Linked DNA regions of Homo sapiens: region 1 is linked to region 2. Evidence: fine-mapped expression QTL. A gene starts in region 2. The other region holds a variant in brackets. All regions are shown on one strand. Distances are from middle to middle.

What was found. PIP is the estimated chance that this variant, and not a neighbour inherited with it, causes the effect.
Region 1: its variant is fine-mapped to the expression of PAMR1 in damaged cartilage (Steinberg 2020, PIP 0.95).

What each region holds. Positions count from the first base shown.
Region 1 is chr11:35,589,253-35,597,589 of GRCh38, reverse strand. No RefSeq gene overlaps it. Among named protein-coding and RNA genes, the nearest start is that of FJX1, 25 kb to the left of the region's middle. The variant T/A (reference allele first, on the strand shown) is at 4,646.
Region 2 is chr11:35,522,024-35,530,357 of GRCh38, reverse strand. PAMR1 (peptidase domain containing associated with muscle regeneration 1) reads left to right here and starts at 4,742. Exons shown (of 11, transcript NM_001001991.3): 1 at 4,742-4,845. The coding sequence starts at 4,773.

The DNA.
Region 1 (8,337 bases), 67 kb before region 2:
TTCTTTAAGGAATCTCCACATTGTTTTCCACAGTGGTTGTACTAGTTTACATTCCCATCAGCAGTGTTGCTGAAACCCCATCTCTACTAAAAATACAAAAATTAACCCCGTGTGGTGGTGGGTGCCTGTAGTCCCAGCTACTTGGGAGGCTGAGACAGGAGAATTGCTTAAACCCAGGAGGCGGAGGTTGCAGTGAGCCAACACTGCACCATTGCCCTCCAGCCTGGGCAACAAGAGCAAAACTCTGTTTAAAAAAAAGAAATAAAAAAAAAAGAAGTGTTACCTTTTCGCAGCATCCACGCCAACATCTATTGTTGTTTAATTTTTTGATTATGGTCCTTCTTGCAGGAGTAAGGTGGTATTTCGTTGTGATTTTGATTTGCATTTCCCTGATCATTAGTGATGCTGAGCATTTTTTCATATGTTTGTTGGCCATTTGCATATCTTCTTTTGAGAATTGTCCATTCATGTCCTTAGCCCACTTTTTGATGGGATTGTTTGTTTGTTTTTTCTTGCTGATTTGTTTGAGTTCCTCGTAGATTCCTCGTAAAATTCCTGTAGAGTCTTTTGTCAGATGTATAGATTGTGAAGATTTTCTCCCACTCTGTGGGTTGTCTGTTTACTCTGCTGACTGTTTCTTTTACTGTGCAAAAGCTCTTTAATTAAGCCCCACCTATTTATTTTTGTTTTTGTTGCATTTGCTTTTGGGTTCCTGGTCATGAAATCTTTGCCTAAGCCAATGTCTAAAAGGGGTTTTCTGGAATTTTTACTGTTTCAGGTCTTAGATTTAAGTCCTTGATCCATCTTGAATTGATTTTTGTGTAAGGTGAGATATGAAGATCCAGTTTCATTTTCCTACATGTGGCTTGCCAATTATCCCAGCACCACACTGAACAGACAAATAACAAGCAGTGAGGTTGAAATGGTGATTTAAAAAATTGCCAAAAACAGAGTCCAGGACCAGATAGATTCACAGCTGAATTTTACCAAACATTCAGAGAAGACTTGGTACCAATCCTGTTGACACTATTCCACAAGATAAAGAGGTAATCCTCCCTAAATCACTCTATGAAGTCAGTATCACCCTAATACCCAAACCAGGAAAGGACATAACAAAAAAAAGAAACTATAGACCAATATTCCTGATGAACATAGATGCAAAAATACTTAGCAAAATACCTGCTAACCGAATCCAACAGCATACAAAAAAGATAATCTACGATGATCAAATGGGTTTCATACCAGGGTTGCAGGGATGGTTTAACATGCGCAAGTCAATGAATGTGATACACCACATAAACAGAATTAAAAACAAAAATCACATGATCATCTCAATAGATGCAGAGAAAGCACTTGACAAAATCCAGCATTCCTTTATGATTAAAACCCTCAGCAACATCGACATACAAGGGACATACCTCAACGTAATAAAAGCCATCTGTGACAACCCCACAGCCACCATAATACTGAATGGGGAAAAGTTGAAAGCATTCCCTCTGAAAAGTGAAACAAGACTGGGTGCCCGCTCTGACCACTTCTATCCAACATAGTACTGAAAGTCCTAGCCAGAGCAATCAGACAAGGGAAAGAAATAAAGGGCATCCAAATCAGTAAAGAGGAAGTCAAACTGTACACTGTTTGCTGATGATATGATTGTATACTTAGAAAACACTAAAGACTCCTCCAAAAAGCTCTTAGAACTGATAAATGAATTCAGCAAAGCTTCAGGATACATGCTTAATGTACACAAATCAGTTGCTCTGCTATACACCAACAGTGGCTAAGCTGAGAATCAAATCAAGAACTCAACCTCTTTTACAGTAGTTGCAAAAAAATAAATAAGTAAAATACTTAGGACTATACTTAACTGAGGAGGTAAAAGACCTCTACAAGGACAACTACAAAACGCTGCTGAAAGAAATCACAGATGACACAAACAAATGAAAACATATTCCATGCTCATAGATGGGTAGAATCAATACTGTGAAAATGACCTTACTGCTAAAAGCCATCTACAAATTCAATGCAATTTCCCTCAAAATACCACCATCATTCTTCACAGAACTGGAAAAAAAAAATCCTAAAATTCACATGGAAACAAAAAAGAGCCTGCATAGCCAAAGCAAGACTAAGTAAAAAGAAAAAGTCTGGAGGCATCACATTACCAGATTTCAAACTATATTATAAGGCTATATCACCAAAACAGCACGGTACTGGTATAAAAATAGGCACATAGACCAATGGAACAGAATAGAGAACTCAGAAATAAACCCAAATACTTATAGCCAACTAATCTTCAACAAAGCAAACAAAAACATAGAGTAGGGAAAGGACACTCTCACTTTTTAAAGGTATGGGGCCTAGAGTGAATGAATGCACATCACATTTGTAGGGATGACCCTTTGTGTCTTGTACCGTTTAACAGATATGCATGCACCTTTGTGGGACAAATTGTTCTTTTTTTAAGTCATCTTTTTAGCATTCAATTACAAGAAGAAAATGGCCAAGCAGGCAGAAGAGTTCTGTATTATTTAATCCATCCATCTCCTTCTCTGGCTTCTGGCAAGGGAGGCTGCTGTACTACTTCTTTCCCACCACTCAGTAGACCGATGGAAACAGGAAGTTGAGTGCTCTCCCTGCCGTTGCCTTCAGAAATCTTGTAGCATCTGACAGATTGAGACACATTGCTTCTCTCTCAATGAGGCCTGCATTGGTGACAGTCTCCAGGCAACATGATTGAGAGGGAAGCTGGACAGTCTGTCAACTTGGCCTTCACAGGGCTATTAGAGTGAAGCAAGAGATAAAATGTATTTTGTTTTCAACAAGGTTCCATGTCTGTCTTATATTATCAACTCCAAAACATACCATGAAATATGACTTCTTATTATCCCTACTTTTAGAGCACTTAGAAACTGTTAGGCGAGGTGGAAGTAAAGAACTGGGTGTAACTGGCTGCAGCAGCTTATGCTTGTAATCCCAGCACCTTGGGCGGCTGAGGCAAGAGGATTGCTTGCGTCCAGGAGTTCAAGACCAGCCTGGGCAACATAGTGAAATTCTGTCTCTACAAAAAATAAAAAACTAGCTAGGCATAGTGGCGCATGCCTGGAGTGCCAGCTACTTGGGAAGCTGAGGTGGGAGGATCCCATGAGTCCTGGAGGTTGAGGTTGCAGTGAGCTGTGATCGCACCACTGCACTCAGCCTGGGTGACAGAACGAGAGACCCTGTCTAAAAAAAAAAAAAAGAACTGAGCGTTAATTTTTCCTGAGTAGTATGATGCTACTCTTTCTGAGATCACTATTTGTGGTAGATAAGATAATGCCCTCACACCCCAAAGTTATGAATTCTGCTGCTATCGTGTATGCTAATGCCTTCCATAGGCACTAGAAAGGCACTTTAACCATTGACCATTATTTAAGGATCCATTGAAAAGTAGAGTATATGTTTCCTATTGCTGATGCCCTGACCTAATCCCTGGAACCTGTGAATATGTTATGTTATATGGCAAAGGGAAATGCAGGTTGGAGACGAAATTAAGGTTGTTAATCGGCTGACTTTAAAATAGAGAGAGCATCCTGGATTATCCAGATGGGATCAATGTAATCACAAGGGTCCTTAAATGTGGAAAAGGAAGGTAGAAAAGTCAGAGTGGCTGAGAAAGACTCAGCTGGCCATTGCTGGCTTTGAAGATGGAAGAGTGTCATAAGTCAAGGGATATATGGAGCCTCTGGCAGCTGGAAATCACAAGAGAAAGGATTTACCCCCAGAGCCTCCAGAAGGAAGCAAGGTGTCCTTGCTGACACCTTGATGTTAGCCCAGTGAACCCATTTCAGACTTCTGACCTCTAGAAATATAACATAATCAATTTGTTTCATTTTAAGCCGCCAAGTTTGTGGCAATCTGTTATGGCAGCAATAGGAAACATATACTCTACTTTTCAATGGATCCTTGAATAATGGTCAATGGTTAAAGTGCCTTTCTAGTGCCTATGGAAGGCATTGGCATACACGACAGCAGTAGAATTCGTAACTCTTGAGTGGGGATATTACCCCATGCCTCATATTCTGTAGAAAACAATATTAAAGCTACATTGCTTGTCTAGCCTTATACCAGAGGGACTTATCTGACTGGTGTGGCCTGGTGATTTGGGCAGGGTTCAGCTGAGATTGTTCATTTCCATTCTCTGTGGTGTTTGTTGGGTTCACTCACATATTTGTGGTCACTTGGCATGTTGATTGGTGTTGCCTGATCCTGGATGATGTAATTTACAGGCCTAGCAGTTGGCTGAAGTGTCAGCTGGGGCACTTTGGTTTTTATCCACATGGCCATTCCACTGGTTTAGCTAGCCTGGGCTTCTTCACTTGGTAGGTGAATTTTGAGAAAGAATGCAGAGGTTGCTTGACTTAGACCTTGGCTCAGAAATTGCTTAACATCATTCTGCTTCTTTCCATTGGCCAAGGCAAGTGATGGGAACAGTAGCAACCCCACATTGCCGGGGGCATATATACAGGGATGGGAGGCATTTGTAGCTATATATATATATATATATATATATATATATATATATATATATATAAAATATAAATATTTTTTATCTAAATATATAAATATAAATATTTATATATATATATTACATATATATATATAT[T/A]TTTTTTTTTTTTTGCTGTTGGTGCTGTTGTTGTTTTGAGATGGAGTCTTGCTCTGTCACCCTGGCGGGAGTGCAGTGGTGCGATCTTGGCTCACTGCAACCTCTGTCCCCCCGGTTCAAGCGATTTTCCTGCCTCAGGCTCCTGAGTAGCTGGGATTACAGGCATGCATCACCATGCCCAGCTAATTTTTGTATTTTTAGTAGAAATGGGGTTTCACCATGTTGGTCAGGCTGGTCTCAAACTCCTGACCTCATGATCCACCTGCCTTGGCCTCCCAAAGTGCTGGGATTACAGGCGTGAGCCACCGTGCCTGGCCAGCAATGGTTTTTTAAGTGTTATACTCTCTGTGGCTCCCTTTCTTAGGTTAGATGGCCTGAAGCTGGTATAGGTTCTTCCTTCTGTTCCTGCCTCTTTCATGTGGTGAGTCTGCCAAGGCAAGCTCTGCCCTCAAGAGGAAAGGCTTCCAGTTGTTTAGCTGCTGTGGCCATGAAAAGGTGGCTAAGTATAACTCAGTATGGAATAGAAAACTCATTCAGATCACAGGGACAGTTTCCATTCACCAGACCAGGTAGCCAGTATTACCACTATTATTAGGACCTCTGATTCCTTTGTATACTTCTCAATTGCTTCAGAACGTGGAAGACAGAAAGGCACGATTAAGTAATACCTCAAGAACTTAGCAAAAACCACCTGAAGGATACAGAGAAATAACCAGTGACAAGAAGGGAAAAGTTCAGGAAGGACAAAACTGGGACGTTATTCTAAAAGTGAAGGTACACATTCTACCAATATAAATGATGAAATAGGATGCACAAGGAAAATGGTCTTTGCCATCCTTATGGACTAACTGTAATATGTCCAATAATTAGGATGTTTAAAATATGTTGACAAAATTCTGGAAAGCATTGGCTGGTTTTGCATTTACATTCTGGTGAAGTCATTTTCTCCCTGTAACTGATATTTGGACAGTTCTCCTGAGACAGCAATGGGGCATAATATAAACTGTCATATAATCATTTAGACATTTCAATTCTCTCTATGTCTTCTTTTTGTCGACAACCTAAAGGAATATATATTGCACATACACATAAACAGACGTGTTTTCACTATTGTTGTGGATGCAATTGATAATGGAAACAAGAAATGAAGGGTCTCTGAAGAAGAGTGAGATTTTTTCAGTTCAGTCCAGTTAGTGAAGTCCAGTTCAGTTCTGAACTTAATCCAGAAGTTGTTATTTTTCCGCAAAAATGACAGTGAAAAATCAGAGGGTTACATGGGAGCTCTCATTTTGCAGCTGCAGAAGCAACAGCAGCAGCATGGAGAGAAGGCATTGGTGTGTGGCCACACGCAGCTTTGGGGTAAGAGCAGGCAATAAGGAAGCAGTGCATTATAATGGAAGGAGCATGGGCTTTGGTTAAAGATAGACCCATGTTTTTGACTCCTGCCTTTGCAAATTACTCACTTTCTAACCTTTCCTGTTTTCATTTCTTCTGTAAAATGGGGCTGATTGCCCTCATCTCATGACTATTGTAAGGATTAAATAAGATATATTTCAAATGTCTACTACTGTGCCTTGCACATTGTAGGCACACAAGAGTGATGACCATACAGAAATGAAATTTGCAGAATTCGTGGGGGGAATTGTGATTCAAGTCCTTGCATGGGTCTGAGCAGTAGCTAGTAAGAACAGAAGTAGCTAGGGTGGTAGAGATAGATAGATAGATAGATAGATAGATAGATAGATAGATAGATAGATAGATTGTAGAAAGCTCCATGTTTTTAGGGATGCATTTTTAGCAAGTACATTATAAGAGATAGTATTAGAACTAACTTTTCACTTTCAGATAATTCTCAAGAAATAATAGGTCTGGTTGGAAAAGCCATGGACTAGTGTGACAGGTCTAAGGGGATAAAAGAGTAATATAAGATGACAACAGAATAGGCAGAACCGGACCACACTTGGACACAGAGAGCTCTCCAAGCTGATTTTGAGCTGTGTCATACCTATGGCAGAGGCAGTATTGGTTCCCATGGGCTACCCTCCAATCTTTCCTCTTGTCGACTTGGCAAGCCTGGGACCTCTTCTGAAAACCTCAGCTCTAACAACTCCTAAAGTGTCTCAGTGTAACAGGTAAGGAAACTGACAAAAGCAGGGACAAGGGCACACTCTCCCTGTTGAGCCCCTCAGTTGGTTTAGCAACCAGGGAGAGGCCACTCCCTGGCTTAGCTCTTTCATCCATAAGCTAGGATCCCTGGTGCCTCTCCCAGTTCTTTCTGCAACCTGCTATAGCATCAGGAGGAGGGAGGGACTCAAGCCATCTTTCTGCAACTCAATGCTCATATTTCTGGCTTGTTATCACAGTGATGTATCCTTAGGGACAGTGAGTCACATCCTAGAAGTAGCTGGCATCCTTGGAGCCATCCCTGACTTTCTCTCTCCCAGCAGGGTGGGAGAAGAGCACCTCTCCTTCCAAGGCATGGAGGCAAGAAAGTCTTCCCCTTCTCAATCCTCTGTTATGGCTAAGCTTTACACACTAGAGTTCAGGTGTGCAAAACCAGAAAGGAGCTTCTTTTGTTTTAGTAATGGATTGTCTTCTGCTCTGAAGCCCCCATAGAAGTAGGGGGAAAAACACAAATAAAAATAGACATGCCAATAAAAGAGAACCCAGTCTCTTCCAGTTCAAAATAGTTCCCTTTGGGCAAATATTCTGAAGTGGTTCCTACCAAGTCTGTTTCTCTCTTTTCAAGAAGTTGCTTTCTACTCTTTTTCAAGATGGCACCTGAAGTGGAGGGAAGCAGAGCCTTAAATATCCTCACAGCAGAGAGGAGGAGTTCTGCACCTGTGTGTGGTCCTCTGGGCTGCTGTTCTCTGGGCCCCAGCTTCTGGCCTTAATAGCCTTCCTTGCCTCAATGTGAAGCCTGGTGGACCTGGTGAATGTTCTCTCAGCCCATGGAATACAACTTCAGCCATCTTCTGCTGCTGACTCCAGCCACCTGAGATTTTGCTGGTGATACTGGTCCTTTGAGACATGGTCACAAGCTCCTTGAGACCCCCAGACCTGGCCAGACCTCCCTGTGGCTTCTGCTACAGGGTTTCCCCATCTTGTGTCTCAGTGAGCACTTGCAGGCAGGCTTCTCAATTCTTAATTCTTCTTTACTTTCGCCATCCCTTTTATTGGTCCCTGAGAACTTTCCAGATCTTCTTTGTGCTCTGCTGAAGCCAAGAGAGAGCTAGGGTGGGCTAGAATGAGGCTATCTCAGGCCCTGGCTATACAGGCACCCACTTCTGCCCATGCTGCCCATTAGTACCCAAACCTGATGTACACGGCACCCTTTGGAAATGCAGACTTTTCCCACAGGCTGTGGCTCTCCCAGGCTGTACCTGGGGAAGCAGAGCACCAGCCATGGTCTTGCTAGGTTTCTCCAAAGTTTCCTTAAGTTCCTAGCGCATGCGCACACCCAGCCCAGCCAGGGGTTTTGATTTGGTTGTGGGAGGGAATTCAGGACACTGTCACACTTGCCCATCCTCTCTTCAGCCCTCTTCTCAGCTCCTCCCTCCACGGAAAGCACCTTCTATCTTCCCCTTCTCTCCAGCAAGAACTGTCCTCATATCCTCCTTCTTCCTTGTTCTTTACCCTTTGCCTTCCCTTTCCCAGGTCCAAAATGACAAAAGGATTATAGGAGCAGAAAC
Region 2 (8,334 bases):
GCTGAGCCAGACCTGAGGCAGAACATGATTGCTCATTGTGTAGGTGAACAGCCGGGATTCATTAGGGCTGGAGACTTCCATGAAGGGGCCAGTTACAGCAGGCTCCAGTGGAAGGGCCCTTTGTCTTTTCCACAATCCTGCCCTTCTCCATCTCTGGCCTTGGCTGACTTGAACTTGGTGTTTTGCACAGCTGATGGAAACCAAACTTAATTACCAGAAGTCTGGGATGCCTCTTATAGGTTTGCAGACCAGTTCTACCTCTGGCCTGTTTCCTCTGGCTTTCCCAGTGTGTGGTTGCTGCTTAGCTGCTGATCTGCAGAAGTGATAGCTGGGAGATAGAGGGAACTGTAAGAATTCACAAAGACAGTCTCCTCTGCTGTTTCTCCCTGTGGATTCACATGCAACCAGCCTCCCTGGTGGCACTGAAAAAGGTACCATGTGAAAATTAGTGGGTATTATGACTTGTAATTAAATGGGTGGCCTGACTCTGTCTATTACAGCCAATTTTTTATTCCTGATGCTGATTATTAGTAGATAATTCTTAATTCCAGGTATCATGCCCTATCTCCCAGCATGCCACTTTGTCTTTTTCATACACAGCCTTTCTTGTGATTTATTCTCCCCGAAGCAAGCAGTGGTAGGAGGTGAGGGCAGAGGGGGAGATAAGCATCACAGAAACAGTTAACATTTACTGATATCTTAGTATATTTTAGGCACTGTTTTGAGCTCTTTACTCTAGCCCTAATGGCAACAGGTACTATTCTTCAGACTTAACAGATGAGGAAACCAAGGCCATCATATGTGAAATAACATGCCCAAGTGTACACAGGTAGCGAGTGGTCCATCTGCATTCAACATTAGTCAGTATGGTCCAGAGCAAGTGCTCTTAAGTCAGAAATAGTTTTTTAAAGGTGAGGAGGAGGTGAGAGGGCCCTCCAAATGTCCACTGTGCAGTTTATAGCCTAGACTCAATGATTGTATATATTCACAAAATCACTTTCCCCAAATCTGAGAAATATTTGGTCCATTTTTCAATTTTAACTTACGAAGATTAGTGATTCTAAAAAAGTTGGGAGTTTGCAAATGAGAAGGCTATGGCTCCCTCTTATTCAAAAACCTGCATGCAAAAATTTGCATATGATTTTGGAAGATTCAAAGTCCCTCAAAAAACCCCATCTCAACCAGGAGCTTCCAGATTAAGAATCCTTGATTTAGAACAATACTAAACTCTATCAATATGAAAAATGCAGTTGACCATAATGGGGACAGAGAAAGGTAAACTTGTGTAGGAAAACAGAAATTTGTGTAGGGCTGAATGTCCTCAGTAAACTACTGACTTTTCTGTGTCATAATAACAGTTCTCCTCTTTCTCTTCCAGCCCTGGGATTATTGTGCAGTTCAACAAGGTAATATCTGATTACTGCTTTGACTTCTCCAGAAAAATACATCCTCCACCTTTGCAGAGCATCTTTTTGAGAGTTTCTTTCCAGGTCCTCAGCTCTAGGAAATTTACAAACCCAAATTAGTGACAACAAACTAACAAATCAACTCTTGAAGGGGATTCCAGAAACAGAAGAAGGGCCTCTGTTTCCAGACCCCTGAACCTAGAGAAGTAAAGACCTGGTACCAGGGACTTCCTTAGCAAATAGCCAAACAGGTTTGTTGGGAAGGAAAAATAATCTTTCTTCCCTACCCATCTTAGATTCCTTGGCTGTGGCCCTGTAAATTAGAATGACAAAAAAAAGAAAAAACAGATTAACAAGAGAAAAACAAACAAAAGTTTTTTATTAACTTGTGCATGGTGCTTACATGTTGAAATACCTAGTGAGGAGTAACTCAAAGAGATGGTTAGAATTTGGGTTCATATTGCATTTTTAAAAAGAACAATAAATTTGCAGAGAAGTGGCAAGACAAACAAAAAGGACTTTGAGCTTCTAGGGGTAGCAAATTATGGGAAGATAAATAAATGGGGGTCCTAATGGGAGATAAGACTAGTTAGTAAGTTTTGGTATGTAGATTCCTCTGGGCTGATAAGGGTCTAGGGTTGTCTCCAATGATTAACTTCTGTCCGTCCTGGTAGAGAGGGGAGGTGGAGACACTATACTTTTATAAATTCAAGTCTGCTTTTAGGAAAATGGGGGGAGAACAGAGACCTATTCTTGTATCTACTTCTTCTTAACTGCTTTCAGCTCAAAATAATCCTTATGCCAAAGGGGCATATTTGGGGGTGGTATAGACTGCTATCCTTCAGGTTCATCACTTAGAGCCCCATTCTGTCAGGGGGATGCAATTCATGTAGGGATGAGGCTGCTTGGTATTGACTCAGAGAGGTGTGTGTGGTGGGGGCTGGGAGGTGGGGAGAGGGAAGATGAAAAGAAACCCCACGTGTCATGGGAAGGACCAGGTGGAGATAGTTGAATCATGGGGACAGTTACCCCCATAAAAGTTTTCATTTTGTTCTCTAGATGTTGGTGGGCCCTGGTGGTTTAGGAGTAAGGTGTGCTGAGCTCGAAGCAAAGTCTTGGGAAGAGAAGTCACCCTGGACTATTGATGAAGGCCTGGAGTAAAGATTAAGAAATGGAAGTGGAAGGGAAAAGATAAGGGGAGAAACCTGAGGAAGGTAGAATCTGTAAAGCTCAGGTGCCGTCAGCTGGAGTTGAAACAGACTCCTGAGAGGCTCTTATGCCTACAGTTATTTGGGAACTAAGTCATCTTCTTCCCACTCCCATCACCAAAGGACCAGGACTGGTTGGCCAGCAACAAGGTGAACCTCCCTTCTTCGAACCTCTGCCCTCTACCTCTTAGGTATATGCTGCCCTCTGGTATTCTGCTCCTGTTTAAGGCTACTCTTGGTGCTTATTTTAACTGATTTCATCTCGATATGGAAGTTGAGTGTAGGAACAAGACTCATACCATGAGATGTTCTTGGGGGCAGTCTCAGGTCAGATAATAGAGATAATGATTAATATTTAGTGTGCACTTAATATGTGGTAGGCTCTGTGCTATGGGCCTTACATGCGTAATCTTATTAAATTCTTCCAGTGATCTACAAAGTAGGTTTGATTATTATTTCCATTTTATAGATGAGAAGACTGAGATTCAGAGAGTTAACTTGCTTAAGGTCACACAGCCAGAAAGTGGTGAATCAACAAAATTAGAACACAGGCCTGCTGAGTTCTTGCTTCCAGTCACTTCACTGCAATAGGCCCCCAGAAGCAGGGCTGGAGTTCAGAAATTCTTTCTAGTAGAGCACCTGTGTCAGGGCTCCTGACCTTCTGATCTGTCCTGAGCTTTACAGATTCTACCTTCCTCAGGTTTCTCCCCTTATCTTTTCCCTTCCACTTCCATTTCTTAATCCTTACTCCAGGCCTTCATCAATAGTCCAGGGTGACTTCTCTTCCCGAGACTTTGCTTTGAGCTCAGCACACCCTACTTGTAAACCACCAGGGCCCGCCAACATCTAGAGAACAAAATTAAAACTTTTATGGGGGTAACTGTCCCCATGATTCAATTATCTCCACCTGGTCCCTCCCATGACACGTGGGGTTTATGGGAACCACAATTCAAGATGAGGTTTGGGTGGGGACACAGCGAAGCCATATCAAATGGTGAAATACAATTCTGCATATGTAGCATCCTAAGAAGCTCTATAGCCTAGTGGCTAAGACTATAGCCTGTGGGCCTAAGCTGCCCGGGTTCAAACCCTGGCTCTGCCCCTCACTAACTGTGTGGCCTTGGATGAGTTATTGTAATCCTCAATGGTTCCGTTTCTCTAATTGTAAAATACAGAGGCTAGGTTTATTGTGAGGAATAATTGAGTTAATACATGTAAGGTACATGACACCTGGCACGGAGGAGTTTATTTTAAAAAGTCACCTATTATGAAACATCCTTCTTCCTCATTTCGAGATGTCACTTGCTATCTTGTACCTAAACTGAGCCCTTTTGGTGGAGGCAGTGAGGGTTCTTGTGTGTTCTTCGCCATCCCTGCCTGGCGTGTGCGCAGGAGCTATTTATGTTGCTGAATTCACCATCGTGGGGATCACAGGAAGAGGAAAACTTTTTCCAGTAGCTCAGGAGCTGCTTATGTCGCTGAATTCACCATGACGGGGATCATAGGAAGAGGAAAACTTTTTCCAGTAGCCTGTAGTTGCAAAAGATAATAAGCTTTCCAACCTGTGATCACCTGGAGCAAACGGAGAGGAAAGGAGATAAACGAGGAGTGTTGCGTGCGGAGTGGAGGGAGGCTCCCTTTCTCCTCCCATCACCAACTCCTCCTTCTCCTCAGGCCAGGCTTTTAATCAGGCTCCCCGCGTGCAGTCAGAGAGGGCAAAGCCAGCTCCCGTCTCAGCCTCCCGTAGGAAGATCTCCCGGCCTCACCTGAGCGCCCCGCAGCCCTGGGTACCTCTGCTCCCGCCCAGGGTCCTATGGCCCCTCCTCCCAGCACCCAACACTGGGACCCCACCTGTACCCAGGCTGGCCTCCCTCCCCCGCAGCTTCCTTTGCAGCCGCCGTCCGCGGGTCTCCAGGCGTGGCCACACCTCCCGGGGCCCCGCAAGGGTTAAGGCAGCAGAGAGGAGAGGTTTGGGCTGACGTCGCTCTGGCTGAAGGTGGTTCCCCTCAGATGAGGATGGGAGAGCCTGGCGAGCTGAAACCCGAGCTCCCGCTCAGCTGGGGCTCGGGGAGGTCCCTGTAAAACCCGCCTGCCCCCGGCCTCCCTGGGTCCCTCCTCTCCCTCCCCAGTAGACGCTCGGGCACCAGCCGCGGCAAGGATGGAGCTGGGTTGCTGGACGCAGTTGGGGCTCACTTTTCTTCAGCTCCTTCTCATCTCGTCCTTGCCAAGAGGTACTGTGAGTAGCGTCCGGGACACCCTAGGAGGACACCCTAGGAGGGAGCATTTTCCTCCTGGGGTCTGCCTGGGAGCAGGACTGGGAGTCTCAGGAGGTGGGCTGTGTGTGTTTGGGGTGAGGGGTTGAGGGGGGGTGGTGCTTTTCCAGTGATAATTTTAGGGACTTGGCTGGTGGTGCTGGAGCTCCTGTGGCCCTCCCTGAGACTGTGACGTGGTTTTGTCATCCCAAATCGTGGGGCTGTACTGTCTCAGGAAAGCGGACCAGCTCCTATTTTATTTGCTCTTTTTATCATTTTAAAAGTACCAAATTGCCTTAGGGAATCAATTCTGAGTTACCCGCTCTGACTTGCAAAAGCGAAGTTTCTCTTGGAAAGGGCTCCCTCAGAGGTGAGCAAGAAAGAAAGAAGAGAGGGAAAGAAAGAAAGGAATAAAGAGCAGGGCTTGCTTGGTGTTCTTCTGGTGAATCTTGCTTCACGAACTCCTACAGCCATACCCCTTCGGAGTAGATCCAAGCACAGGAGATTGACTCACTCAGCATATATAGACACACTTCCTTTCTGATGAGAGTGAGAAAGAAGAAAAAGCCAAGGTTAAAAGTGCAGATTGTTTCTGGGATGCATAGGGTTTGTTTTGAAAGAGCTCTGGCTTCTTTGGTTTTCATATATCATTTTCTAAGCCACAATCCCCAGGTCAAATGGGCTTCTGGGGACAAATGAGGCTGGGACATGATACGGAGATCCAGCTAAGGGCAGAAGCGAGGACATGGCAGATCCTGCTTGCTGGCAGGCGGGGAAGTGGGAACGTCATAGGAACATCTGTCCTTCTATGGCCCAGGGGGTAAAGTGAGACCTCATGAGATGAGGGCAGGCCGAGATGTACAGAAATGACCAAACGGGGCAGCTCTGAATAGGGGCAGGTTATGTACGAGCCTTCGCTGCTTCCCTTCTGTGCTGGTTACCTGTCACCTGAACTCTATCTGAGAGCTGGGTGCTCTGCCGCTGCAAGTAGCTGGCAAGTGCCTGAGAATGAAACAGGCCAGGTCGGGTGGGGAGGATACTAAATGCAATAACCTGTGTAGAAGGGAAACTTAGCCATAGGCACATCCCTTCATGATCAACGAAAAGCTGAGATACACAAACCCCCCTGCCCTTCATTTTGGTCAATACTTTCCATCTACCTAGAGCCTGCCTGCCCAGGTAGGATCTTCCTTAATGATTTACAATAAAGATGGTGAGTGTTTCATTTGAATTTTGCCTCCATGGTGTCTGGAGCAGCCCAAAGACAATAATAAAGGAAGAAGGAGCCCTTCATAAGGGCTGACAATCCATAAACCTAAACACTTGCCTAGGGGTAAGTGGGTGACTTTGCATTAAGGCACCTCCCTACTTCATCTTCGCCTTTGCATGGTGTCGGTGGACCAGCTCCAGAGGACCTGGTTCTTCTCAGAGTGCCAGGGCTCAGTGGATTTGATTCCTCAGGGTTACATCAGCGTTCCCCTGCTTCCTGTTTTATTACATGGCAGGTGAGGCGCTTCAAAGCCATAAAAGTTTAAAAGAAAATAAAAAAACCTGAGCTGGCTCTTTTTCCTAGCCCAGAATCTGAAAAATCCATTTATTTCTGACCCGAGAACCTCTTTTACCTTTGGCTGTGAAAAAGCTTCAGAGAGGATACGCAGTTTGTTGGTAGCTAAACTGCTGCCTGAACCAGAGCGCAGCTTCATGTGTTTAGCAAGGATATTTTAGTTGTTGAATGTTTTACTCACATTTCGAGGGAAGACGGAGGAATAGCGTGGAGAAGGAAAATATTTCCTCAAGGAGTGAAGGAAGTCCACTCCCTGCTGGGATGCTGAATCTGGCCCCAGGCAAGAAAAGCTTGGAAGCGTATTTCCTCTAATTAACTTTTCTAAAAAGAGTATTTGCTGAATTGTAAACATCCACTGGGATGGTACCAGAGAGTGTTGTTTCTCACTGGCATGTGACACATGTTGGGAGGATGAGAATCCAAACATGAGGCCAAGCGATAACCCAACATAAACAGAATGAGGGGAGAAACCCAACTCCACTGACTTCACCAAATTGCGGTAGCTCTGCCAGTGTGATTCTGCCGAAGAGGAAAACCTCATTTAAAATATGGGACTCTTGGGAATGAAAACTTAATCTGGAGAACTTCACAAGTGTTGCTTCCAACAGACATTAACTTGTGGGGAATGAACATAAATGCAACCAGGGAAGATAATTTGAAGTGCAGATATTCAGTGGGCAGGAAAAGCCAGCCGAGAAAGGAAACATGGAAAGAAAGCAAGGGAGAAGGAGTGGCAAGAAAAATGAGATGTGAGATTACACTGGGATATGTTGGCAAATTCCTAGGAGAAAGCTAGGAAAATTGGGCCTTCTTGGCACGGGTGGATTTTTGCGGGGATCATGAAGAGGGTGTTCCCCTAATATACAATCTGAGAGCTCCTGGCATCCCCAACAGGAAAATAATTTAATGATGGGATCATGGAGTTTAGGAGCTGAGAGTGACTTTAGAAATTATTTTAGTATGAGTCCCTCAATTCAGAGGATGAAGAGATTAAACATCAAGCAAACATTTAGTGAACATTTATTAATGTGTCCAGTCTTTGAGCCAAAGGCTTCATATGCATTAATTCTCAGACCACCCTGAAATGGCATTGCTGTTATTATCCGTGTTTTACAGATGAGGTTCAGAGAGGTTCTATGATACACAGAGGTTTAAGGATATACAAGTATGGTTCCCCCAAAAATTGAACATAGAATTACCATTTGATTTAGCAATTCAATTTCTGGGTGTATACACAAAAGAATTGAAAGCAGGGACTTGATTAGATATGTTTACATCAATGTTCATAGCAGCATTATTCCCAATAGCCAAAAGGTGGAAACAACCCGAATGTCCATTGATAAACAAGATACAGTATACACCTACGACGGAATATTATTCAGCCTTAAAAATAAAGGATATTCTGATACGTGCTATAACACAGATGAACCTTAAGACCTTATGCTAAGTGAAAGAAGCCAGACACAAAAAGACAAATGTTCTGTGATGCCACTTATATGAGGTACTTAGAATAGTCAAATTCATGTAGACAGAAAGTAGGGTGGTAATTGCCAGGGCCCAGGAGAAGATGGAATGGGAGTTATTATTTGATGGGTACAGAGTTTCAATGTGGAATAGCAAAAAGTTCTGGAGATAGATGGTGGTGATGGTTGCACAATAGTATGAATGTACTTATGCCACTGAACCATGCACTTAAAAACGATTTGAGGCAGGCGCAGTGGCTCATGCCTATAATCCCAGCACTTTGGGAGGCCAGGGCGGGCAGATCACGAGGTCAGGAGATCGAGGCCATCCTGGCTAACACAGTGAAACCCTGTCTCTACTAAAAATACAAAAAATTAGCTGGGCGTGGTGGCAGGCGCCTGTAGTCCCAGCTACTCGGGAGGCTGAGGCAGGAGAATGGT